7 linked regions of the Homo sapiens genome follow. The protein of the gene in region 7 purifies or fractionates together with the protein of the main gene of each other region. This does not show direct contact. Each region holds a gene or a part of one and is shown on either strand. Other genes may lie near its edges. The genes, in order: ARHGEF6, CYFIP1, ABI1, ASAP1, CYFIP2, ARHGEF7 and NCK2.

The links.
Region 1: the proteins of NCK2 (region 7) and ARHGEF6 purify together in Homo sapiens (affinity purification with mass spectrometry; 4 studies listed by BioGRID and IntAct, with this or other methods). This does not show direct contact.
Region 2: the proteins of NCK2 (region 7) and CYFIP1 purify together in Homo sapiens (affinity purification with mass spectrometry; 4 studies listed by BioGRID and IntAct, with this or other methods). This does not show direct contact.
Region 3: the proteins of NCK2 (region 7) and ABI1 purify together in Homo sapiens (affinity purification with mass spectrometry; 5 studies listed by BioGRID and IntAct, with this or other methods). This does not show direct contact.
Region 4: the proteins of NCK2 (region 7) and ASAP1 purify together in Homo sapiens (affinity purification with mass spectrometry; 4 studies listed by BioGRID and IntAct, with this or other methods). This does not show direct contact.
Region 5: the proteins of NCK2 (region 7) and CYFIP2 purify together in Homo sapiens (affinity purification with mass spectrometry; 4 studies listed by BioGRID and IntAct, with this or other methods). This does not show direct contact.
Region 6: the proteins of NCK2 (region 7) and ARHGEF7 purify together in Homo sapiens (affinity purification with mass spectrometry; 5 studies listed by BioGRID and IntAct, with this or other methods). This does not show direct contact.

Annotation. Positions count from the first base shown.
Region 1 is NC_000023.11:136,665,933-136,669,432, reverse strand, and holds part of ARHGEF6 (rho guanine nucleotide exchange factor 6), read left to right. Parts: intron 1-1,263; coding exon 1,264-1,404; 3' UTR 1,405-3,500. UniProt on the Homo sapiens protein: Acts as a RAC1 guanine nucleotide exchange factor (GEF).
Region 2 is NC_000015.10:22,917,869-22,921,368, forward strand, and holds part of CYFIP1 (cytoplasmic FMR1-interacting protein 1), read right to left. Parts: intron 991-3,500; coding exon 824-990; intron 68-823; coding exon 1-67. UniProt on the Homo sapiens protein: Component of the CYFIP1-EIF4E-FMR1 complex which binds to the mRNA cap and mediates translational repression. In the CYFIP1-EIF4E-FMR1 complex this subunit is an adapter between EIF4E and FMR1.
Region 3 is NC_000010.11:26,850,959-26,854,458, reverse strand, and holds part of ABI1 (abl interactor 1), read left to right. Parts: intron 1-3,500. UniProt on the Homo sapiens protein: May act in negative regulation of cell growth and transformation by interacting with nonreceptor tyrosine kinases ABL1 and/or ABL2. May play a role in regulation of EGF-induced Erk pathway activation. Involved in cytoskeletal reorganization and EGFR signaling.
Region 4 is NC_000008.11:130,051,604-130,055,674, forward strand, and holds the end of ASAP1 (arf-GAP with SH3 domain, ANK repeat and PH domain-containing protein 1), read right to left. Parts: intron 3,203-4,071; coding exon 3,128-3,202; 3' UTR 501-3,127; downstream 1-500. UniProt on the Homo sapiens protein: Possesses phosphatidylinositol 4,5-bisphosphate-dependent GTPase-activating protein activity for ARF1 (ADP ribosylation factor 1) and ARF5 and a lesser activity towards ARF6.
Region 5 is NC_000005.10:157,321,623-157,325,122, forward strand, and holds part of CYFIP2 (cytoplasmic FMR1-interacting protein 2), read left to right. Parts: intron 1-1,319; coding exon of another isoform or gene 1,320-1,394; intron 1,395-2,298; coding exon 2,299-2,452; intron 2,453-3,500. UniProt on the Homo sapiens protein: Involved in T-cell adhesion and p53/TP53-dependent induction of apoptosis. Does not bind RNA. As component of the WAVE1 complex, required for BDNF-NTRK2 endocytic trafficking and signaling from early endosomes.
Region 6 is NC_000013.11:111,272,310-111,275,809, forward strand, and holds part of ARHGEF7 (rho guanine nucleotide exchange factor 7), read left to right. Parts: intron 1-1,504; coding exon 1,505-1,643; intron 1,644-2,421; coding exon 2,422-2,481; intron 2,482-3,222; coding exon 3,223-3,369; intron 3,370-3,500. UniProt on the Homo sapiens protein: Acts as a RAC1 guanine nucleotide exchange factor (GEF) and can induce membrane ruffling. Functions in cell migration, attachment and cell spreading. Promotes targeting of RAC1 to focal adhesions. May function as a positive regulator of apoptosis.
Region 7 is NC_000002.12:105,884,412-105,887,911, forward strand, and holds part of NCK2 (cytoplasmic protein NCK2), read left to right. Parts: intron 1-3,500. UniProt on the Homo sapiens protein: Adapter protein which associates with tyrosine-phosphorylated growth factor receptors or their cellular substrates. Maintains low levels of EIF2S1 phosphorylation by promoting its dephosphorylation by PP1.

The sequences.
Region 1 (3,500 bases), on a different chromosome or scaffold from region 7:
TCTTGCCTCACGCTGCTCATGCTTTCAGGGAAGGCCTAGGAGCAAGGTAGCGAGGGGGGATTTTTGTTTTCCTTGTGTCATCAAGGTAGGTTTTGTTGATTTTATCATGTAAGCCTTGAATTTAAATTTCCGAGGCTTGCTTGTATTTCTATGTAGTAGTTCACAATAGAGTCCCAAAGTTAGTTACAACTTTCCTGTTCTCTGACATCCATAAACAGACTTTAAGAAAAGACTAGTCATTCATGAGTGTGTAAGTGTAAAGAGAACCATTCATCATGGTTTGTGGGCTTTTCTGCCGATGTGGCCTAGTGCTCCGTGATGCACACTGTGCCTTGTGTGTGAGGACTGACTGTATCTGGTGACAGAGTGAAGGATGGATGCGAGGGGAGAGAGACCAGGGACTAGAAGACCACTTAGGAGGTTCTTACAAAACTCAGGGTGAAACCTGTCAGAGTCCTGAACTGAGGCAGGGTAATGAGGCTGGGGAGGAGGAAACGAATGTAAAGGATGGCATACTGCAGAGTTTGAACCTATGGACGAGGATAATATGATTTTGAGATTAAGAAAGAGCCAGGGATTAAAGATGAAGCTTCTTCCCAGGGTGTCTGGTTGCATATGGTGGTGCCCCTTCATGGAGATCAGTAATCACAGGAGGAGGAGAAGTTTGGGGTGTTGAGAGAGATACTGAGTTCACTTTAGGACCTGATGAGTTTAAGGTGCTTGTGACATATCTAGGTGGAAATACCAAGCTGCTGCCAGGTAATCTCAGGTAAGTGAGAGGATCACTTAAGCCCGGGAGTTTGAGGCTGCAGTGAGCCATGATTACACTGCACTCCAGCCTGGCAATAGAGTGAGACCCCATCTCTTAAATAAAATAATAATAATAATAATAATAATAAGAAGAAGAAGAAGAAGAAGAAATACCAGGCTGACAGTTGAGATTGTGGACCCGATTCTCAGGAGACAAGGTCAGTACCAGAGATATTTGGGAGTCCCCTTAATAGACACTTGGGTTGAAACAGAAGTGACACTAAGTGAAAAGCAAGTTAAATTAGAAGAGGATCAGGGCAGGGAAGAAGAATCCAAAAGGTTTCCCAGAGACAGGCAGGAGAATCGACAGGCTGCTTTGTCATAGATGCTGAGGGAGGGAAGGTCGAGGAAAGAAAGAGAGTCAGTGATGAAAGCTGCCCCGAGGATGAGCAGGAGGAGCCCTTGGAAGGGCCCCCCTCTGTTTGATAATCAACAAATCTTTCCCCATCATAGGAAAATAAAAGAATGAAGCAATGCCTGGAAGAAGAACTGAAATCAAGAAGGGACCTAGAAAAGCTGGTGCGGAGGCTTTTGAAGCAAACAGATGAGTGTATTCGAGGCGAGTCCAGTAGCAAGACCTCAATTCTTCCATAACCATCACTGTGCCACTGGGTGGAGTGTGCCTTCAGGGCATCTTGAAATGTCCCGCTGAATGATTTGACTCAGTTTGCTCACTTCTTTGGCTTTTGTTTTGTGTTTGAGTCTCTCTCTCTCTCTCCCTCTCTCTTCTCTTTCTCTCCCCGCTGTGTGCATATGTGTGTGCGTGCACGTGCGCGCTTGGGCATTTGCTGTTGTTTGGTTATTGGTTGGTTGTTCATTTTTTTTTTCAACAGGTGAAAAAGCAGGAAGTGGTGGTAGAGATGGCCTCAGAGTCTTTTCCATTCAGTAAGAAAGAGAAAGGGAATGCAGGCCAGTTACTTAAAAGGTCTTCAGATTGCCTTCAGTTCACAGTGCCTCTGCAACAGCCATTGCCCTCAGGTCACATTCTTTGGGCTGGCTGCCCTTGCAAAGCAGCTGGCCAAGGCTTATTAAATGTGAACCCAACTTTTCCCCAGGGCTTTCCTGTACCTGCAAGCCTCTTAGTACTTAATTTACCGAAGGCAAATCTTCCAGACTATGGCTTGAGTAGGATGAAAGACAAACACATCTGCCCAATGATCCAGCTGCCCTTCCTTAGACCATCACATGCCTCCCCTCAATCACAGGTTTTAAAATTACTGCCCTATGTTGTCTATAAGACCAAGAAAACTGTAGTACCCTTATTCCTTTTGTGTCATGTAAATTGTAACTCAGGGGGGCAGAAGCTCTGGTCACCCACACCAACACCAAATCCATCAGCAAATTCTACTGGACAATCCTCCCTTTTAGTAGCAGAGTTGACCGCCTTTTCCCATTGCATGATAGGTTTCTTTCCCTCATTCTGCCTAGTGTGTAAGTTTTCTATTTCCCCAGTACTTTTAGCCAACCTTACCAAGTGGTGTGTAAACTAGTATGTATGTGCTTTGCTTACTTTTTAAAAAAATGTAGTTAGACTGTGAGGAGTTACTTTATGTACGTTGCATATTCAAACTGTGATGTTTTATCCTTCAAAACAATCTGCATTAAGAAGATATTGTGCCCTACTAGACAGCTTTCATTCACTTTATTACTCTCTCATATATGCTGTGAGAAGTTGTAATATTAATTGGCCTCTTTGGGTGGGACTCTAAGCAGTATTTGCAGAAATATGCTTCTGGTCCAACTTGTACATCCAGAACAAAAGGGCCCCTCTAGTAGCTGTGTGCTGGATTATTCAGGACTGATTAACTCAAGTTGCTCATTGAATCACATCATCCACTTTATCCCAGAAACTAGAACTGTGAGAAACCAGGTTTAGAAGACAGTCACAGAACAGCACACATCCAAATTCAGCGCCATTGAAAGTTGGCCTAAGGCTCAGTGCCACTCACCCCTCCCTCCCCAAAAGACAAGAGAAATTTGGCCAGATGGGGAAGGTCACTGGAAATTGAGGCCAAAGGGCTGATCAGAATTGCCTTTATAATATATTTGATGGATGCCTATAAATGTGGGTTTTGCAAATATTGTTTAAAAACCAAACTTGAAGCCAGGCATGGTGGCCCACACCTGTGGTCCCAGCTACTCAGGAGGCTGAGGTGGGAGGATCATTTGAGCCCAGGAGGTCAAGGCTGCAGTGAGCTGTGATGACACCACTGCACTCCAACCTAGGTAACAGAGAGACACCTCTGTCTCTGAAAAAACAAAACTTGAAGTTTGAAACCCCCAGCTTGCTGAGGAGCCCTTTTTATTTTTGGTACTGAGAGTCTCAAGGTCCCATAGCTACATGGTACAGGGCTGTTGTCTGCTTGCTGCACAGCAGAAATTACACCATCCACAGGAAATGGACTATTTTTGCAGTCCAACATCAGCCAACCACACACAGCCGTGTTTGGAAGCTGAAGAGTAAAGAAATTTCTAGGAATGGCTGTTGTTCTGTTTTTTAGCACAGCCATTTAGATATAACATCCTTCACTTAAAAATTAAAAACATCAGTACTACCACCACCACCAACAACATCAACACAGATCTTCACATCTGCCCATTCTGTGGTTAGTCAATGGCTTGCAATAAATGTGCAAACTGCATCTATAGGAAACATTTTTGTGATTACGGAATACTTTAGTTGATTGCTG
Region 2 (3,500 bases), on a different chromosome or scaffold from region 7:
TGGGTCATTGAAGGGCTCATGCCCCGTCTCCCAGTCACACACGGTCTTCCTGATGGCCTGCAGGACACTGAACACCCCACCAAGTGATCAGCAAGGCCCAGAGGCCGAGACCTCCAGCCTCACAATCACACCATCTCCTCACCCAACTACAAGGCTCTCAGAACAGCCCCCATGAAAATACAAATTACTCTGGGGGCCATGGAGGGATGTGGTAATGGACCAGCTCAACAGGAAAGTTAAAAAGGAGTCTGCCTTCTGGAGAGTATTACTACCCCCAGAAGACTGCCCTGAGCTCCAGTTCGCATCTGTTAGCCCAGGGCAGCAGTGAGGTGGCTCTGAGTCATGCTGTGGGCAGGGAGAGGGCAGAACACAGCCTCCGCACGGAGCAGAGCTGGGCCCCGCCTGCCCGCAGCTGGCTGTCCCCAGTAACCAACAGGAATGTGAAGTCACCCACATGACCAGAGCCTGGCCATGTCTCTCGACTGGTTTGGAACACAGCCTCATCACCAACAGGGCTCCACCGTGCAGAGACCCCCATAAGGCACCATGCATGAACCACAGGCACCGCGAGCCTGGGATAAATGCACCTTGTCCCGGGGTCCTCAGACTCCCTAGACACTCGGCAGCTGACTTACTGTCCATTGTTTGGGTTAATAATTGGACCCATGCATTACTTTTAGAGGTAATTCACCAAGAGGGCATCTGAAGGTTGAAGATAAATATATTGAAATCATTTTTGAGAATTTAACGCTCCTGTTGTTTGAATCCAAGTTCATCCGAGGACGTGTGGGCACAGCGGGCACAGGGCGTGGGGAAGGCTGACCTCTGGATGACGTTCTTCTTCTTCTTGATGGCCTGCCGCAGCGGCTCCCTAAGGGTCACCTGGGAGAAGTCCTGCAGTGCGGCATAGACGGTGTGCCGGATGGCGTGGTTGAACACGCTCTCCATCCTGCCCATCAGCACCTGCAGGCCTTTGATCATGGCGATCACCTGCGGGGGACACAGCAACAGGGACGGCCCTTCTTAGGGATGGCACCAAGCCTCCTCTGCCTGGCACATGCCGGGGGCTGCTCCTCCTCGCCCACAGCACCTTACGCCCTCCCGCGTTCGTGCCCTGCAGCTGCCCTGCCCCAAAACGTCTTCTCCAAAGCCATAGTCAATGGAACTGTGCCCGCATCTGACTCCCCATCAGACCATGAGCACCTGGAGGACAGGGATGCATCTGACTCGAAACACACATGCATCCACCCCAGCACACCCTCCTGTGATGGAATTCAAATAGGAAAGAAGAAAAAGACTCAGGAAAGCAGGCATGATATTACTAGAAAAAGAAGTTACAAGAGGTTGTAGTCCAAATCCCATATTGTTCACAACAAAGGCGCAGTGAACTACCATTCACAGAAAAAGCCTGGAAGACTCTGATGGAACATAATTACATGACAAAGAGCTTCCAAAGGAATTCCTGGGACAGAAAAATGGTGCCAGGGCTCATTATTTCCCTGTTTCCAGACAGTAATTTTGTCATGACAGTGTGCTTTATTACTTTCTGAATAAACAATTGAAGGTCACAAACCAAGTATGACCTTTACAATTGCATGAGCTTTCTTACGGCTTTTGCCGTTTATAAATATTTCTACAGCCAACTTCATGATAGCTATGTGAGGCCTAGAAATCTCTCTGAAAGCAGCAAGTGAGGCAGAGCAAGACACACTTACCCCAAGTCCACCCTGCCGTGTGGATGTCTGACATATAAGACACCAAAGTGGAACATTTAATAGCACCAGTGAAACATAATTCACTTCTTTTTATCTTTTAACTAGAACGCTGTACCTAAGACTAATACATTTGGGAAAATCTTAACAACCCTTCTTTGGCCAGGCACAGTGGCTCACACCCATAATCCTGGCACTTTGGGAGGCTGAGGCGGGAGAATCACTTGAGACCAGAGTTCAAGATCAGCCCGAACAAAATGGCCAGACCCCATCTCTACAAAAAATTTAAAAATTAGCCAGGTGTGGTGGCATGAGCCTATAGTCCCAGCTACTCGGGAGGCTAAGCCAGGAGGATCACTTGAGCCTAGGAGTTCGAGGCTGCAGTGAGCCATGACTATGCCACTGCTCTCCAGCCTGGGTGACAGAGCGAGACCCTGTCTCAAAACAAAACAAAACAAAAACCCTACTTCAACATCTGAAAATGGTCTTCAGTCCACAGTAATAAAAAAAAACAAAAAACAAACAAACAAAAAAAACCTTTTGAAATTAAGTATTTGACAGATTCAAAATTAAGGCAGCTTTTTTTTTTTTTTTTTTTTTTTGAGACAGGGTCTCACTCTGTTGCCCAGACTGGAGTGCAGTGGCATGATCATAGCTCACTGCAGCCTTGAACTCCCAGGGTCAATCGATCCTCCTGCCTCAGCCTCCTGGGTAACTAGTTCTATAAGCATGCACTACCATGCTTGGCTAGGCATCTTCCTACTTTTATTAAATCTGTTGGTTTGAAGTTCACTTAGCAAGAACACAAATGTGTTTCCCCAAGGCTTCACACAGTCTCCCTCTATCACTTTCTGGTTTTATTCACACCTTTTGAGTTCCTCATTATGGCTTTATAAACAGCCTGATTCATGGGTAAATGAAGACGTGTCTGACAAGTACTTGAAACATGGCTTATATGATTTTGGTGCTTTTCTTTTTCATGAAATTTTCAGGTGGAAAAGTTGACAGTCTGCTTTTAATTCATCCTTCTATAACGTAAAGAATTTCCAAATAGACTGCTTTCATGTAAGACTCATGGTCTATATGCAATTAAAATAATGAAAATTTTAGAAAGGAAAAAGTCTGGAAGAAAACGCACCCAGCTGCTCAGCGCCATCTCTGTGATGGCGCCGCAGGCACTGTGCCTTCCTAATGCCATGCTTGTGTTTTCAGCATGCTTACTTTGGAAAACTGATGATTTTATATTGTTTTTCCAATCAACAAAAAAGAAAAGTTCTATTTAAAAAACCAAACGAGGAAAAACCCATTTAAGTGAACATAACAATCCTACATATTCACACTTACAGGAAGAAGGAAAAGGCAAGTTAACAGCAAACTGAGAGCTTTAGATGCACGCATTAGAAAACTAAAAAGGATAAAAATCATAATACTTATCAAACATTCATCACTAATTTATAGAAAACAGCAAAATAAACCCCCCCAAAATCGAAGAAAAATAACTAAAAGCACCCGGGCGCAGTGGCTCATGCCTGTAATCCCAGTATTTTGGGAGGCCGAGGCAGGCGGATCACAAGGTCAGGAGTTCGAGACCAGCCTGGCCAATATGGTGAAACCCCGTCTCTACTAAAAATACAAAAATTAGCCTGGTGTGGTGGTGCACACCTGTAGTCCCAGCTACTTGGGAGGCTAAGGCAGGAGAACTGCTTGAAACTGGGAGGTGGAGGTTGCAGTGAGCTGAGATGGCGTCACTACACTCCAGCCTAGGTGACACAGCGAGACTCTGTCTCA
Region 3 (3,500 bases), on a different chromosome or scaffold from region 7:
TTTTTTCTTCTTTCACACCAAGTCTGTGAACCCAGCATATCAGTTCTTATGAAAGTCCATATCACATATATCAGTTCTTGCTAATACTCTCAAGGTGAGAATACTGCATATTTTTAGGACTATATAATATTTGCAAATTTGTATTAAAACTAATGTCTTCTCTTTTTTCTTTTGTGGCTTTAATACTAATAACAGCTTTATATGTAGTACTTCTGACTAGTCCTGGTCTGTTTAGAACCTCAATTTTAGCATGCTTCTGTCTTTTGGAGAGTTTTCTTAGAAAATTATTGAAATAATCTCTTAGGATACTTGCAAATTTTTCTTGTGTGCTTCTGCGTTCTCCAGTTGATTCTGATAGCTCAGGAATGCTAATAGTCCTTGTGGAAAGGAGATATTTAGGCAACTGGGGATCTGCTGTGTGACCATTTACAGTAACCTTATTTATATTCAGTGAAATTATGTCCTAAGAATTAAGACAGTTAACAGTCAAAAATATGTTAGCCAGAAAGGAAGAGTGTTCATATTGGGACAAGAGGTTGGATCAAACTCTAGGATATTGTGCAGATATAAATCTATAAAACCCATGAAAATAGTGTTGGCATGAAAAGTAAGGTAAAGGCTGGGCGTGGTGGCTCACACCTGTAATCCCAGCACTTTGGGAGGATGAGGCGGGCGGATCATGAGGTCAGAAGATCGAGACCATCCTGGCTAACATGGTGAAACCCCGTCTCTACTAAAAATACAGAAACAAAGTTAGCTGGGTGTGGTGGCGGGCATCTGTAGTCCCAGCTACCTGGGAGGCTGAGGCGGCTGAATGGCGTGAACCCGGAGGCGGAGCTTGCAGTGAGCTGAGATTGTGCCACTGAACTCCAGCCTGGCAGCCTGGGTGACAGAGCGAGACTCCGTCTCAAAAAAAAAAAAAAAAAAAAGTAAGGTAAAATTGATAGTTAATGCTAATTTTGAAGCATTTACAAAGTTTTGATTGGGAGGTTGTATATTTTTCCTAATATCATCTTGTGTTGATTGTAATATTTATTGAAATTATGGTTTGATTGTAGAAGAAATAATAGTCAAACCCCAGAACTACAAACTTTGTAGATCTTAATATTTACTAAGACATCATGTTAGAAAAAAGGGATTTTTTTTAAAAAAAAAAAAGGGCATTGTTGAGAAATAAGACAATAGGAAAGTAGCAATTACTGGATTTTTTTTTTTTTTTTTTTTGAGATGGAGTCTCGCTCTGTCACCCAGGCCGGAGTGCAGTGGTGTGATCTCGGCTCACTGCAAGCTCCGCCTCCCGGGTTCACGCCATCGATTTTGTTTTTAAAGGAAATAGTTGACGTGGTCATTTTAACAGTAAATATCCATCCCTTAGAATGGAGACTTGAGATTTGACTACTGTGTGTCAATCCAAATAAGTACTTTTAACTTTGGATCTACTAATTTTCTCCATCTACAAAATAAAACTTTCTCAGACATAGTTGGTAGTGAACCCGTGTTTATGAAGAAAATCTGTTAATGAGGGACCACACCCAGCTAATTTTTTGTAATTTTTGTAGAGATGGGATTTTGCCGTGTTGCCCAGGTTTGTCCTGAACTCCTGGACTCAAGTGATCCTCCTGCCTTGGCCTCCCGAAGTGTTGGGATTACAGGCGTGAGCCACCATGCCCGACCAGCAAAAACACATTTTTGAAAAACTTCAATTTACCTTTAATTCACTCATTTCCTGAATGCTTTATCATTAATTTTTATTAATAATTTCTACATTCTTTGACAAAATTGTATTTGGTACATTTTATTTTTCCTTCTATGGAAAGGCAAGTGTGGCACTTTTTCAGAACCCATGGGAAATTAATGCCCTCCACTTAAACATCAGAAATGTATATATTATATCATATAGAAAAAGATGTTTCCTACTACGTCAAATATTAGCAACTTAAGAGTTGTAACAACAGATGCTTATTTTATTTTATTTTTTTGAGACAGAGTTTCGTTCTTGTTGCCCAGGCTAGAGTATAATGGCACAATCTCTGCTCACCTCAACTTCTGCCTCCTGGGTTCAATCAATTCTCCTGCCTCGGCATCCTGAGTAGCTGGGATTACAGGGATGCGCCACCACGCCTGGCTAATTTTGTATTTTTAGTAGAGACAGGGTTTCTCCATGTTGGTCAGGCTGGTCTCGAACTCCCAACCTCAGGTGATCCACCCATCTCGGCCTCCCAAAATGTTGGGATTACAGGCGTGAGCCACCGTGCTCGGCCCAGATTCTTATTTTAATAAGGCAATATAGAGAAAAGAGTACATGGGTGCCATTTTATTTTTAATTTTTATGAGGGTTGGGGTCTCCTATGTTCCCCAGCTGTCCTCGTAATTCTGGGGTCAAGCGATCCTCCCATCTCAGCCTCCTGAGTAGCTGGGTCTACAGACTTTCCCCCCAAGCCCCTCCCACCATGCTCAGCTCATGGGTGTCATTTTAAAATTGATTATTACTCAAAAGTGCGCCCTCAACATAGTTAGGCAATCCCACTAGATAACCTCGCCAGTTTGTTCTTCCACTTACCACAAACTATTTTAATTTTTTTCTCCCTTTTTGAAATCTGACCCTTTCCTTTCTTGTCTTTTGGTTCATAGAGAAAATAGACTTCATCATATAAGACCTATAATTTCTTACCACTGCATCTCCAAACCTGCTATCCTCGCTCACCCTATTCTACTCCTTTTTATAATGGAAGAGAGACATTCTTCCTCCTAGCTAAAGTCCTAACTGTGGGTCATATCCTGTCCTGCCTTTTTGTAAACCTTATGCTCCTGATAAGTTTATACCTCCTCTCTTTACTGAATTTGTGCTTTCACAATTGAAACATTTCAGATCTCTGTCGTACTTGAAAACTCTTTTGACTTCATATACTCATCTAGTAACTGACCTATCTCTCCTTTATGGATTAACTAGTTTTATTACACTATTGTCAGCTAGCTGCAGTGGCTCAAGTCTGTAATCCCAGTTACTTGGGAGGTTGAGGTGGGAGGATTGCTTGAGCCCAGGAGTTTGAGATCAGCTTGGGTAACAAAGCAAGACCCTGTCTCAAAAAAAAAAAAAAAAAAAAAAAAAATTAGCTTAGTCTGTAGTCCCAGCTACTTGGCAGACTGAGGTGGGAGGATCACTTGAGCCCAGGAGTTTGAGGCTGCAGTGAGCTATGGTTGCGCCACTGCACTCCAGCCTGGGCAACAGTGAAACCCTGTCTTTTAAAATAAAAACAAAAAACCAAGCATTTTCCTCCATCTCCCACTTTTCATTCACTCTTTAACCTGTTCTATTTCCACTGCTCTCTGAATGCTAATAACCTCCATGTTGCAAAATTCTTTCCCATTTTAGTTCTCATGTGCTTTTTTTCTCTGCATCATTTTGCATGGTTGGTTTTTCCTACTTTTTTTGAGAAGTTAATCCTTTGGCTTCTCTGATAGACCTTTCTTTCATGCTTTTCCTATTACTCTCTGGCCCA
Region 4 (4,071 bases), on a different chromosome or scaffold from region 7:
GTGATTTACAAGCCACATGTCTCCTGTGTGTGAATGAATGCCTCTGAGCCTCATTTGTCAGCTCTGTAAAGCTGAGGGGCTCACGCTTCTCCTGGGCTTGCTAAGGATTCAGGGGTTAATGCAGGCAGAGTGCCTGGGCCAGGTCTGCTCCACTGCGTGGCAGCACTAGTTGTGACAGCTACGTGACAGAAGTGCTGTCCACACGACAACATGTAAGCCTCGTGCCCCTCCACCCTCTTCTTGCCCTGTTCACATCAACGGGCGCACAAGTGGACGTGGTGGAGGTGGAATGCGGAAGGTGGAGGACAGAAAGGGGCCGAAGGCCCACAGTTTGTAAGCCGGGGCAAGTGCCACATATTTTTATGTATCCAGAGTGATCTCTGACAAGGGTTGGAGTGACCTGTGTCATCTATATACCCGAAAGCACAGCCAGAGGAAGCCTTGATTCTCTCCTGTCAGCAGGGTAGTGAACAACTCACAAAATGGCCTGATTTCAGAAGTTTGGGATCAACTGAGAATATGTTTATTTAAAAGCAATTTTAAATATTAAAAAAAGTAGAAATTAACACATACAGTACTGAAAAACTGTCACATTAAACACATGTGAAATGACAAGTGTACTGATGTTTGATGGTAACATCCAGATGAGAATTCGGCATTTAACTAGTGGCACTACAGGATTCCTATACAACATGTTGAAGTTCTAGGCAATAAAAAAATAAATAGCAATTGCTGTTCAACAGTAAAATAAGACACACACTATTTGCAGAACATAACTTTCCCCTCTGGGGGAAAAAGAACTAATTTGCTATTTTTTTTTCATAAGGTTCCATATCTTCAAAATACTATATAATGTACAAAATTGCAGATAGTGGCTTACTGAGTTTAAGATCAAGATCAGACTTAAACTCAACAAGATCACCAAAGGTATTTCTACTGAGTTTTCCTATGTCCCACAGTAAGCTGGGTTAGAGAGAACTCAAATTCCTGATGGAAAACAAAACCGAACAAAAAAACTAGAAAAAAAAGGTGTTAAAAATGCTGTGTAAGTTGCTGCAAAAGGGGAAAAAGAATAGACACTAACTCCATGTAATTTTAGACATGCAGCTTTTGTGTTTTTTTTTTGTTTTTGTTTTTTTTTTTTTTTTGAAAAAAACCAGTTTATTTTGAGATCAGTGAAAAGAGTCTAGGCCACAGAAAAGAACAGCTCTTTAATGCAAGTTAAAATGTGTAAATGAATGACCGGGACACTGAGCAACCTCAGATGCAGACTTCCATCCGGACACTGGTGTGGCTTCAGTACCGAGGCTGCTAAAGCTGCCAGTCACAACCCAGCATGTCAACTGGTTCCTCATGCTCTGTTTGGTGTGGAAATTCACATGTGCCCTGACACTGAGGAAGCAATTGCTTAAAATCACTTTCCAATAACAGCTGATAAAATATTTTGCAGGTTTGTCATGCAAGGTTTATTTATTAGGTGGCTATTCAAAGTTTGTATAGCAACCACTTAAGCAGAACTAAATTAATATTCACTGAGCACTGTAACGATGGAAGAGGGCTTTTCCTAAGGGTTGGGTTGGGAGTTGTGCTTCTGTGAAATTAACATCTCTCACTCATTGCCAAGATTCTCTGCTTAAAAATATTAGTTTTCTGTGCTGTTGCCAAAATAGCAATTTAAGCAAATGTAGTGCCAGAATGACACATGAGCCTCGGACTCAGGGAACAGTTCCACTGACTGTGGAGTACAACTATTGCATTCTTTTCCAAAATTCAGACTGATGTAAAAGACTGAAATACAATGTTCTTAAGGATCTGATAAACATGGCTGGGATGAAAAGAAAACTGAGAGGGAAGAGTGCTTTTCACAGTGCAATTCATAGCAGCGTTCAAAAACTTGGTTATGAATTGACTTGAAGGTGGACAGAGCTTAAGACTGGAAAAATTATCTATAATTGGGGTTTAACAAAGAGCATGGGAAAAGAAACACTTGGTTTCAGCACCTGGATTCTACATACAGTAGGGAAACTGTGTGAAGGGTTGACTTTTAAATTCATCTTGAATAATCTTTTAAAAGTTTAAATTTGTCCAAGAACAAAACTAAGAAAATAATAAAAAATGGATGCAATGGATGCTTCAACACATCTGAGAGATGTGCATTCATAACACAATATGTCAATCCATACTCTTGAGAAAGCCAGTGATTAGAAACAAATATTGTTGCAACCTTATAATTTCTGCTTTAATGGCAATCAAGTTTAAAAAATGTACAATTCCACTTATCCATACTATTCCTTTATAAAAGGCAGATTTCAGGTAAGCTTCTAAATGCATGCGTAATGTAGAGGCTAATATTTTCTGGCAGTCCTTGGTTCCTGAAATTTGAACTTCATATGTGTTTTAAACTTTTGTCAAAATAGTCATGAAAGATATGTTATTTTTGCATAATGAGGTAATATATCAGGGGCGGGCACTCATAAGACAGTATAAATCCACTTGTCTAAACTTGCATGAGGCTGTGTGCATTGTAAAATGCCATAAAGAGTTTTGGGTCAGTGAATATTTTGCTGAAGGAATAACACTTACATTTAACTGAGCACTTTTCTGTAATAAATACCAAAGTAGGTTTTTGTAGCTGTAAACTGTGTACACAGATAACTACAGGCTGGTCTGTCATGGAGCTAAAAGTTTCACCTGGAAAACAGAACCCACCTCTTTGCTAATGTTGCATTTTCAGTAACACAATTGAGAATACTGCATTGTTAGGAACAGAGTCAATTCTATGCCTTTCAACGGTTGCTGGAGACCACTTCTATTTGCAAAGCCAGCAGTTCCTATACTCCTATTTTTGTTTGTTTGCTTGTAGAACAGCATAGAGAGATGTAAGTGCTAGATGCCAAGGATGGCTTTGGCAAACCAGTAAGGCGCGCCGGGTCCGAGGCTACCCTCATACTGGTGAAGGCAGAAAACCACAGGATATTTACAACACACATTATATCCCCCTCCTGAGGTGGCCCTTCCATGAGTTTCTTACTCTGTAACAGCAGCTATATACACACTGTGCCCAGGGTTACATGAAGGCAGCAGTCTTGCATGAAGGATGTGGACAATCTTAAGGTTCTGCGTTTTGCTAGTCAGACAGGATATGAACAAAGGACACTGGAAAGACCCCCTTCCTTTCAGGCTGTCCTTCGATGTGGCCAATCTGCAGGGAGAAAAGAGAGTGGTCAGGATGGAGGCAGCAGGCAGTGGCCCCACGACAAACCCAGTGGGTAAGAGCCCAGCCTAGTCTGCCCACAGACCTGGCGGTGGAATCCCAGGCTTACCCTTCTTCCCACCCTTTAGTGAACTACAGAGAGCTTAACGGTCATAAACTACATAAGGAAAGAGCAAACGACAGAACTTCCAATATGCTCAGCATTCTACATGGATCTTGCTGTACCCACACAGCAACCCCCTGAGGTGGATATTTCTTATACAGTTTACAATCTTCATTTTACAGATGAAGGGACAGTGGCCCAGAGAGGTGACATGCTCTCCCACAGGCGTGGGGCTCTAGAGTCCTTGCTCTGAACCAGGGCGCCTGGCTGCCTTTACAGCTGGGTGACCTCACACAAACCTTGCTAAGCCTTTTCTCTGTTAAGTGGGGCTAAAGAAAATCCCTTCTCTCCAGGCTTGTGTGATACATTTAAAAAAGAAAAAAAAAAAAAAAAGCAAATGAAAAGGCTGCTATGGCACCTGGCCAATCCCAGTACTATTACCTATTCCTAGTTGGGAAGGAAGGGGTTTCTTTGCCCACAGCCCAGGTAGGATGCATACAGACCATTAAGCTGTGTCAGCTGCCTGGCAAGACCCACTGCGGGGTACCATACTCAAATCAAAGCTAATCTTGTTCTGTCTCTTCTCTTTGTGAGTAAAGTGTTGTTCTAGCCAGTAAAAAAAAAAAAAAAAGGCTGCTATGTACTATCACTTGTTTTCTGGTTACCGTGGAGGAAGAATACTGTGAAAGTTTGAGACTGATGGTGGCGAATGGCAATTTTATTGTCTGCTGCATTGGCCTGTAAGCCAGTTACC
Region 5 (3,500 bases), on a different chromosome or scaffold from region 7:
TCACAGGCCTCACTTCCCATGACCTTTAAGCCTCTCTCTGTTCTCAGTCACCCAAGATGGACCATCTGAGGCCCACCCCCGACCCTTCTCCCTGTGTGTGCGTCTGTGTCTGTGCTGGGGGCTGGGGCAGGGGAGAGGTGGGTTCTCGGCAGGGTCATCTTAACTCCCCTTGGCTTCACAGCCCTCTGCTAGTTTGCACCAATCTCACCGGCTGGTTGTAGAACGCCCCAAGGAAGCGTCTGCAAACAGTTCTGTGTAATATCAAGGGTTGAGGTCCGGGAGACACTGAGCAGGGCTTTCAAGTGTTTCTGTAAATTTTAAGACATGAGTGAGCAAGAGACAGACAAGGCACAAAAGACACTGGAAAGGAGGAGGAGGGGACTTAACAGGCAGAGAGAAAAGGAGAGGAGAGGAAGGAGTATTTGTGTAGATAATGTGAGAGGGGTGGGTCACCAGCAGTAAATCCCGCCTCACCCCCAACCTCTACCAGGTCATGCTAGGTGGCACAGACATGTTGAATAGACTCGTAGACAACCAGAGCTGGGAGCGCTATTAGAGAAACCTAGGCCCTCCCCCTCTCTTGCGGATGGGGAAACTGAGGTCTAGAGAGGGGAAGTGACTTGTCCAAGTCACAAGGTGAGTCCCAGGTGGAGGTGGGACAAGAACCCAGGTCTCCTGACACCCACCCAGGGCTCTGGTACGGTCTTCAGGACACAGTAGACATGGGCATCTTGCATAGTTGGGATAGAGACTGTTTTGGTGAATTAAATGCTCTGTTAAGTAAAAGTACGTGGGAAAAAAGTTCACCTTCTTATGGGTGAAACCAGTTTTCAGAGAATTAGAGTTGGATATCAACTGGACAGCACCCACAACAGATTAGACTTGGATTCTTCCTTTGAGGACTTGAGAGGCCGTCATGAGAAGAGTGCTTCTCGGCTCCTAGGGATGGTGAGACAGGCCCTCCAACAGGGCTGCAGATGGGGGACTGTCTGAGGCACTGACGGCCACTGTGGCTGCTTTCCCACAAAGGAAGCCCTGTGGCAGGGATGGTGGGTCACACGTTTCTGTGGCTGCTCTACCCGCATCAGTGCCAGGCATGTGATGGGGGAGATCCCAGGGAAGCTCCAGAGGCAGCGAAGACGAACGCGGTTGCTGGGAGGTTGGAGTGTCTCAGAGGTGGCCCCCGGCAGTCGCGGCGGCTTTCCCACCGTATACAATACCTCTTGCTTTTCTCTCTCTCTCTCTCTTTCTCTCTCTCCCTCTTCCCTGTCTCTCCTGCCCTCCCATTCCCTCTTCCTTCTCTCCTATCTATGTCTTAGGCCTGCCAGTGGTCCCCGAGGGCTTTGTTTCACCCCACTGGTGGCACACAGGGCCGAAGAGGCTGCCGATCCCTGGTATCACACCGCCTGGCTGGGTTGGTTTGGGTACCCTTCTCGAGGAGGCAGCAGGAATGGACTAGCCTGGCTCCTCAAGGCCCCTTCCAGCCCTAAGATTCACAGACAAATGATGTGGAGAGATCTAGATTAGCAAAGAGAACCACCCCACCGCACTTGCATCCTTTGCACTTAAGGCACCCTGTAAGCGGGAGTTAATTGTCTAGTAGCCTCCTGTGTAAGTACCAATGTTAACCCGCCTTCCACCCTGAACTTCAGCAGGCTGTGCAGTGCAGCTGATGCCACCAAGGGGGCGCCATCGCTCAGCCATGGGGTCAAAACGCTGAGGGTCAGGAACAGGTGTGGGAGGGGGTTCGTTCTGATCTTATCCCATTTCTCAGTTCCTCAGAATGTTAGTGCTGAAAGGGACTGGTGTGAGAAGGCATCTGGTCCAACCCCCTCATGTTACATGAGACAACTGAGGCCCAGAGTGGGGGCTTTGTTGCCTAAGGTCACACAGCAAATCAGCAGCAGTGCCTGGCCTTGAACCCCGGTCTTTTGACTCCCAGTCCAGTGCTCCACCCATGGCATCTGTGGCCCTCTGGGAAAGCAGGGAGTGACTCCAGGGTGACACGTAATGAGGTTCTCCTCTGATATACACGCCCTTGGCCAAGCAGAGCAGGGAGCTACCTGGTGTGGCCAGGTCCACTGGCCCAGGGATGCCACGGGGCCCGGGTTGGCCATGAAGGTTTTCACAGTTCCACATTTATTTCTCAAACCTTAAACTGGTGCTTCCTTAGGACAGTGCTTTTTAAGAGCAGACATCTGCAGAAAAAAAAAAATACATAAATACAACATGAAGCAACCTTTTTCCCCGGGGTAGAGGGCCAGCTTCTGACCTTCTCATCTTGCTTTCTTTTTCAAGCTGTACATGGTGCGGACCATGCTTGAATCACTCATTGCAGACAAAAGCGGCTCCAAGAAGACCCTGAGGAGCAGCCTGGATGGACCCATTGTCCTCGCCATAGAGGACTTTCACAAACAGTCCTTCTTCTTCACACATCTGCTCAACATCAGTGGTGAGCTGCATCCCATCCCTGCTAAGGCATGGGAGGAGGGGATGAGGGCTCTCAGAGCCGCTAAGACCACCAAGCCAGGCATTGCAAAGGGACGTGACCGTTGACCCTAAGGGGCACATATCACCACCAAGGAAAAAACACATACACTTTCCAGTGGGCTTTTGGAGCTAGGAAAGGCCAGGTTCAACTCAGCTGTTCTGACTTAGCTAAATTTGTCCAGGAGATACTTGTGGCTAATTTGTCATAAAGTCCTTAGTAGAGCGGGATCAAAAACAAGAATACGTACATACAGACACACGGATGCTAGACTTTTGCTACTCAGCCGCAACCAAGCGCTAATTAGTACTTGCTGCTGCCAGCAGGGGAGGCTCTCGAGCTGCATCCCAGTCCTGTGTTCTTCACACTTCCTCTCCTTTTAGTAAGATGTATGTCCAGAGCAGAGGAAGAGTAGTATCTCAGGAACATGAGTCTTCATATGTCTGCTGGCATTGACAAGAGTGATTGTAACAAACAGTACAAACTTCTCCATTAGAGAGTAGCCCGGGAAGGGCCTTCAAGGTCTCTAAACTGTATGGGATCTGGCAATTATCACACGCGAGGAGTCAAGGAGCCACAATCCAGTTGAAAGTGGGCACTCGGGGGCCTGTCTTGACACTGTGTTTGTATAATGAACACACTTTTTTTTTTTTTTTTGAGACGGAGTCTTGCTCTGTTGCCCAGGTTGGAGTGCAGTGGCACTATCTCAGCTCACCGCAACCTCCGCTTCCCAGGTTCAGGCTGGAGTGCAGTCGTGTGATCTCAGCTCACCGCAACCTCTGCCACCCAGGTTCAAAGAATCCTTCTGCTTCAGCCTCCCGAGTAGCTGGGATTACAGACATGCACCACTGTGCCCGGCTAATTATTTATTTTTTTAATTTATTATTATTATTATTTTTTGGTATTTTTAGTAGAGACGGGGTTTCGCCATGTTGGCCAGGCTGGGCTCAAACTCCTGACCTCAAGTGATCTGCCTGCCTCAGCCTCCCAAAGTGCTGGTATTATAGGCATG
Region 6 (3,500 bases), on a different chromosome or scaffold from region 7:
AACACTGTCTGTCTTTTCCCCGGGAGCCCTTGATGGTTCTGGTGTCCCCGAGACCTCTGGCAGTAGCCAGCTTGGCTGGGGTGGTGCGGTGGGAGGCTCCTGTGAGACCAGAACCGGAAATTGGCTTGTTTCTCAGTTTTGCTGTTAGGATTTTCATGTTTATTTTAGGACATCGTTTACATAATGAGGATATAAAAGTATCTTTTCCTTTTAAGGGAAAACCTCTAGACTAGGAAAATTTGTTCCTAGGATTTGTGCCATGGGTATCATTTGAACCAAGCTCTGCTGACTAGAGACCCCTATCTTCTAGGATGGGGCGTGGTGATGGGGCGGGGGTCACCTGGGTCTCCTGGATGGGATGTGGTGACTGAGAAGTCATCCTGGTCTGGACCTGGCATCGGCTGCCAGCGCTGGTGCTGCCTCCCCTCCTTTCTGTGGGCTGTACACTGTCAGATGTGTGGACTGATGGCACATGCAATTTGAGGGACAGCAGACCCAGGGCCTGACAGAGACCTCAGAGATCGCCAGTGAAGGGGTGTTGCGGTCAGGTGACTGTCAGCCTTAACAAACGTGTGGGTGAAGAGCTGGACCCCCCACAGAAGCCTGCCCGTGTCCTCTGCCACAGCCATGGGAACTCTGAGGACAAAGATGACACACATGAGGACCCACTGTAGGGAAAGATAGGCGAGGCACTGTGAAGGGGATGGTTGAAGAGGAATACAGAAAGTTCTAAAACTTGTTTCTGACTCTTTAATTTTGGGATATGCACTGTTTCTATGTCCATACACAGGGACACCTTCCTTCCTTACGTGTTGTGAGGATTGAATGTAACAATGCTTTTGAAGTTCTAAAGCGTAAATCAACATTCGCTGTCTGCACACAGGGACCCCTTTCTTCCTCACGTATTGTGAGGATTAAACTTAAAGCTTTTGAAGTTCTGAAGCCTAAATCAGCGTTTGCTCTCTTCTCTTGCTGCTTCTCGTGCTCCTCACCCCAAGAGCCATTGCCTACTCCCAGGCTGAGTGCTGGCAGCACATAGGTGGGGCCTGCTCGCTGGACGAACTCGCATCTGGGGATGACTACCATCAGTGTGCTCTAGCTCTTTACCGGAGCAGCTCGGTCCTTGTTCTACCACCTTGAGACTCTGAGATTATTGGAATCCATTCTGGCTCTGAGTGTGCATGTTTCCATTGGATATGTCTGCATGGCACTGATGTGCTGGAGGACCTCGCCATCAGTAGGATCTCATGGAGACCCACATGTCCTGTGCTGTGTATAGTTATTGTTGCTCATATGAGAGCAGGAACGGGACCCCTTAGGGATGGGAGTCCCCTTTGGCATTTCCAGATAAGCAGCGCAGATTTGGGATAAAAGCTGGAGCCTTCCAGATGTTAAAAGCAACACTTATGTTTCATAAATTCTGGCTGTTGCTCATGGAGATGAGAGAGCCACCATTGTCTCTCATTGCTAACCACGAGTGTCTCTCTTGCCACTTGCTGCCCAGTGAGGAGTTGGGGGAGTTCATGGAGACCAAAGGTGCCAGCAGCCCTGGGATTCTCGTGCTGACCACGGGCCTGAGCAAACCCTTCATGCGCCTGGATAAATACCCTACGCTGCTCAAAGAGCTCGAGAGACACATGGAGGTACTGCGCTTTCATTCTCTTACTTGGAGTCCTTACCAAGGGTTAGTGGCATGGTCAGACTTACTGTGAAAGAAAGTATTATTCATGATTTATTTTAGAAGCCAGAACCAACAGAGTTTACAAAGAGTTTTGTTAAATATTATGTTTTTCTCCTTATTCCAGCTCTATTAGAAAACATTTACCCCTTATCTCTCTTTTACCCACTGCTGCTGATTGAAAAGTTTCCAAAAGCTGAAACATGAGAACTGATTTTCAGATAGTGTTGAGATGTCTTACCTGGATCATCCAGCTACAAACAATGTGTGCATAGGTTATAGGGTAATACTGTACTAATCATTTGATGAATGATTGTGCTCTTTTAATTTTGAATAACAGGTTGCAGCCTAGCAGAAATTTGGGTTGAAGTTACTCTCTTGGCTTGAGTTGGCAAACCTTTTCTATAAGGGGGCAGACTGTAGGGTCTTCTTCACGGCTACACAGCTCTGCCATTTTAGATACTGTATGTGAGCCGTGGCAGTGTTCCAATAAGACTTTATTGATGAAGCAAGTGTTGGCTTCCCCACCCCTGCTGCTTGTGACTGTTCTCTTCCAACTTATATTTCCCCAAAGTCTAATGGCTTCGTGATTTGCTGAAAGACTGACACTTTAATGCTGAGGGAAAAAGGGAATGTTAAGGGTTGAAAAGTGTTAGAAAAGTTTCAAGCTGGTCTGTAGAAAGTACCTTTTTAAGAAAAGCTTTTCCTTATGAAAGCTAATTGTATGTTTCTTTTACTCAAAGGATTATCATACAGATAGACAAGATATTCAAAAATCCATGGCTGCCTTCAAAAACCTTTCAGTAAGTGATTAAGCATATTGTTTTCCCCCCCAGACATTATTGTGACAAATGAATGTAAAAGAATTATCAACTGAAAAAGTCAAATGATTAAAAAATGACTTGTGCTGACATGAAAGAAAAACAGAGTCGGCATTCTGTGGCTGGTAAACTCCTTTTAGTGGACTATGATAGAATAATTATTTAAATTTTTTAAAGTCACTGTGTAATTGATGTTAGATCTACTTTAAAATTGTTTAAAACATTTTTTTACCCTTCATTCATGTTGTCTTTAATGATTTATTGCAAAACAGAACAATGGTGGTTCCATTTTCTCTGCTGTTGTGTTGTCTTACCAACTGCGTTTTGGAAATATATGGCCTTATTTTATAGCACAAGTTATACTTTCTGTTTCTTCTTTTCAGTCTTCCATATTGGCAAACACGAACAAAACCAGAATGAAAATACAGTTCTTGTCCTGTCCACATTTCTTTTTTGTACAAGTGGCAAAATGTGCTCTATCTTTCTAAAATAATACTTAGTATTCCAGAGCAGTTGTGTGTGTTGCTTCTCTTAACTTGGTTTCATACTTCTAAGCAAATACTTTCAATTCCCTATAATTAAGCAAATCGCTCAATAAATTATCTGTCTGAAGAAGTAAGATATAAAGCAATAATTGTCTTAAGGATGATACAAAGCAATGTGGCCGGAACTTAACATTCTGAAAGTTTATGTCTGTTAACAGTGTTGTTCTGTGTCTGTCAGGCCCAATGTCAAGAAGTCCGGAAGAGGAAAGAGCTTGAGCTGCAGATCCTGACGGAAGCCATCCGGAACTGGGAGGGCGATGACATTAAAACTCTGGGCAACGTCACTTACATGTCCCAGGTCCTGATTCAGTGTGCCGGAAGTGAGGTACTGCTGCCCACATGCACGCACCAGGGTTTCTGTCCCACTCTTAGGAGCTCATAGCAGAAGATTTTAAAGGCATCTCAAGCGATGAAAAATGTCTAATAGAAGCTCTATCTTATAATTTGTGAGCTACT
Region 7 (3,500 bases):
CCTCCCTGCAGGACTCAGTCAGGCATCTTTATTTAATTTCCTTTTTTTCTTGCAGTCTTTGGGCCTGGGCCTTTAATTGAGGTTATCACATGAGGCCTGGCTTCTGGATAAGCACAGCTGTTTTTTTTGGAATGGATCTTCAATAAAATATCCTGAGTGATTGCAGTGTAAATGAGCTAGACCCTTGCTTGACGATATTGAGGGGTGCGTATTTCAGGGAAGACAAACATTGCCACATGCTACACTATCCACTATCAGTAAGTGCTGGGTATTTCAGAAGTATCTGTTGGATATGTTAGATGAATCAGTGAACCAACAAACGAACGAACCTCTTGGACCCTCTTTCCTGTCCTGAACTTCAGTACCTACTGCTTGTCCTTCCATTTCTTCCTCCTCCCTCGCTCTCCTCTCTCATCTACAATTGTCATTTATCCTTAGCAGCTAAAGGTGATGCATTGTTGTTGCTTATTCTCCATATTTCGTTATCATACCTTCACCTGTGAGCCATACCTGCTTAAATCCAGAAAACTCAGAAATCCTACTCACCCTGTGTGTGTCCATTATAAATCCTTTTATATTACATTTTGTCCACATTGATTCTATGGATGTGGCTAGAAAGCTGTACTTAAAATGAACAGTAACCCTTTACTGGGTTTCTGGTAAACTGTACAAGTTGTCAATATTTTATTTTCTTAATTGCTGCATCTCCCATCCTTGTAAAGCTTGTTCAGAAAATGACAGATCACAACTAGGATATGGTTGGAAAAGGTGCAGAGCTGGCCTGCAAGTGCGGGAGGCCATTTTCCTCTGTAAGATTTTAGTTCCCGAAGATATCATGTATTTATTATGTCCTGCAATAGTATTAGATACTAATATTTTTTGTCATACAGTACTTTTTTTTCCAGTAGAGAAAAACTGTCTCGCTAAGGATAATTTAATGCACATATTTGTTTCATTTCTCTTTTTTAAAATATATGAAAAGTATTTGGCTGGGAAATAAAATAGAATAGCTCCTTTCTGTATTTTTAAAGTTATAATATTTCTTAAAGAAATTATAACTTTTACCCAAAACTCTATTTTCAGGCAATTTCATCATTCCATTTCTCTAAATAATGATTCTCTAACTGTATGTAGTGTGTATCAGAATTGCCTTGAAGCTTGTTAAAACAAATTGCTGGGTCCTACCTGAAATGGTACTGATTCAGGAGGTCTGGGGCCCAAGAATTTGCATTTCTATTAATAGCACGTTTCTTGGTGGTGATGCTGCTGCTTTTGGGACCACACTTTGAAAACCCTTGATCCCTATGATGCATTCTTAGTGGTTTTATATATTCTTGCAGCTGTTATTAAAACCATTTCTGCATAATACTACATTTCCATGAATTATAAAAATATTGTCATAAAGCTGAACTTCATTTAGAACTGAAGCTTTTGTTGAGTGGGATTTATCTCTTGAAGTATATTTCTGTTGAGTTTTTTGGGGGGCTTTTTTGTGTTTTTGTTTGTTTGTTTTTTACTGTTTAGAGTTTGAAAATAAACGTGCTGTATTTGCTGTGTTTCTGCTGATGAATTAGGAGGAGGTAGATTGTCAGAGCAATGTGAAAGCTGCTTCCAGGGTTTCATGGTTAGGCTCCGTGATCCATGGTGTTTCTTCATAAATGAGTTAATGTTAAGATGACTTAACCTTAGGTTGCTGTGAGCAGTGCCTGTAGGCATCTTTCCAGTTTCAAAGATAACAAGTTATTTTTAATTGCCAGGCTTTTTGCCCAGTACCAAATGGAAGTTTTAAGCCTGGATTTTTGTAATAGTTCTAATTTTAAGCATATTTAACTCTTGAAGATGGAAAGGCCTGCAAGATCATGCAGTACAGGCTGTTATCTGGAAGTTTAGTGCTCATCACCTGATTCTGATTCTCAAATGGGCCAGAGCCCTTGAAGACTCTGCCTTCTCACTCTGGCTGGCTCTTCAATGCTGACCTTTAAAACAGACAACATCCAGCATCACCAGCAAACTTGCTAGAATGCAGATTGCCCCAGCTTGCTGACTTCGAATCTCTGGGGTAGGGCTCTGCAACCTTGGTTTGAAGAAGCCCTCTGAGTCCTTTTTTTGTTCCAAATCCTGAGAACCTATGAACTCCTGAATAATTCTGATGCGCCAATTTGAGAACCACTACGTTGTGGAGTATGCACTTGATTCAAGCCCTTTTGCATACTGTTGTGTAATATGGTAAAATTCTGACTTAAATGTATCACTCAGTCACATCAGGTATGACACTATGGAAAGACAAAGAATAACAAGGACAATATTCTACAGGTCTATATGGTGAGGTATTACATGTGACTTTAGGAAATACATTTGGGGATAGGGAGGGCTAACCACACACATGCATACTAACTGGAAAGTGGACAGGGAACGCTCCGTTTGCCTAGATTAGGTAGATGGGACTTGGACAGCTGCTCTGTAGTTGATGATTGACTTTTCATTTATGTAAATAAGATTACTTCCAAAGTTAATGAGATGAATATTTGAACATGTCAGTGTGGATTGGCTTCAGGCCTGTGGAGTAAATATTTTATAGAGTGAACATTGATAGGAGAATAGGAAAAGCTGGTGAGACTCTTCACACTTGGGGCAAGGAAGAGATAATCTGATGTAAAAACAAAGAACATAGGGTCAACTGACAGCTAGCAGCATAAGTATAGGCAGGAGTAATTTTTATTAAAAGAAGGCTACCTTAGACAACTAGGGCAGGTGACCAAATAGAATGGTAAAACTGAAAGGCAGTTTTTCTGAGATAAAAACAGAGAAACTATTAATCAGTGGATCACGATTTGCCTCTAACCCATTTGTTCTCACTTTTGGGAGGTAAATGAACCACTTCTGTGGACAGAAGAGTGCCTTCTGTAAAGAAGTAAAAGGGGAAAAACATGTCTTTACCAAAAGAAAAGAATGATACAACTTGTGATAAGAAACCAACAGGGTGACCTCTCTCTGGGGGTAGAAGGAGATGTGTAGATTATTGATGCTTGGAGACTTCAGCGTGGCTGGAGATCAGTCCAGGGTCTGTGTGGAAGGCCTGGTGAATCACACAAAGGGCATTTCTACCCTCATCATTTCATAAAGTCCAAAGTGAAAGATAAGGAGAAGTTTTAAGGTTTAAAGAACCAAAAGTACCTGGAGCAAGGCCCCTCCCTCCCGTTTCCTCATGACTATTGTGCTTAGAAGAAAATCGCATTAATACATAAGCTTTCAGGAATGGAGGAGGAAATAAAGGATATTAAAGTCTGTCCTCGGCATTCATTTTTTTCCTTCTATGAGAAAACAATGATTAAATCTTGAGAGAGGGAGAGGCGTATCTGATCAGGACATCTGTTTTATAAAACTGCAAAGGTGCTTTTCAGCAAGTATTTGAGGCAATGGATCAAGCTGGCAAAGCCATAGAGATGGGATCAAAGAGTGTGCTCTCTACTGTTCTTTTCTAAAAGTACCCACTTATCGCG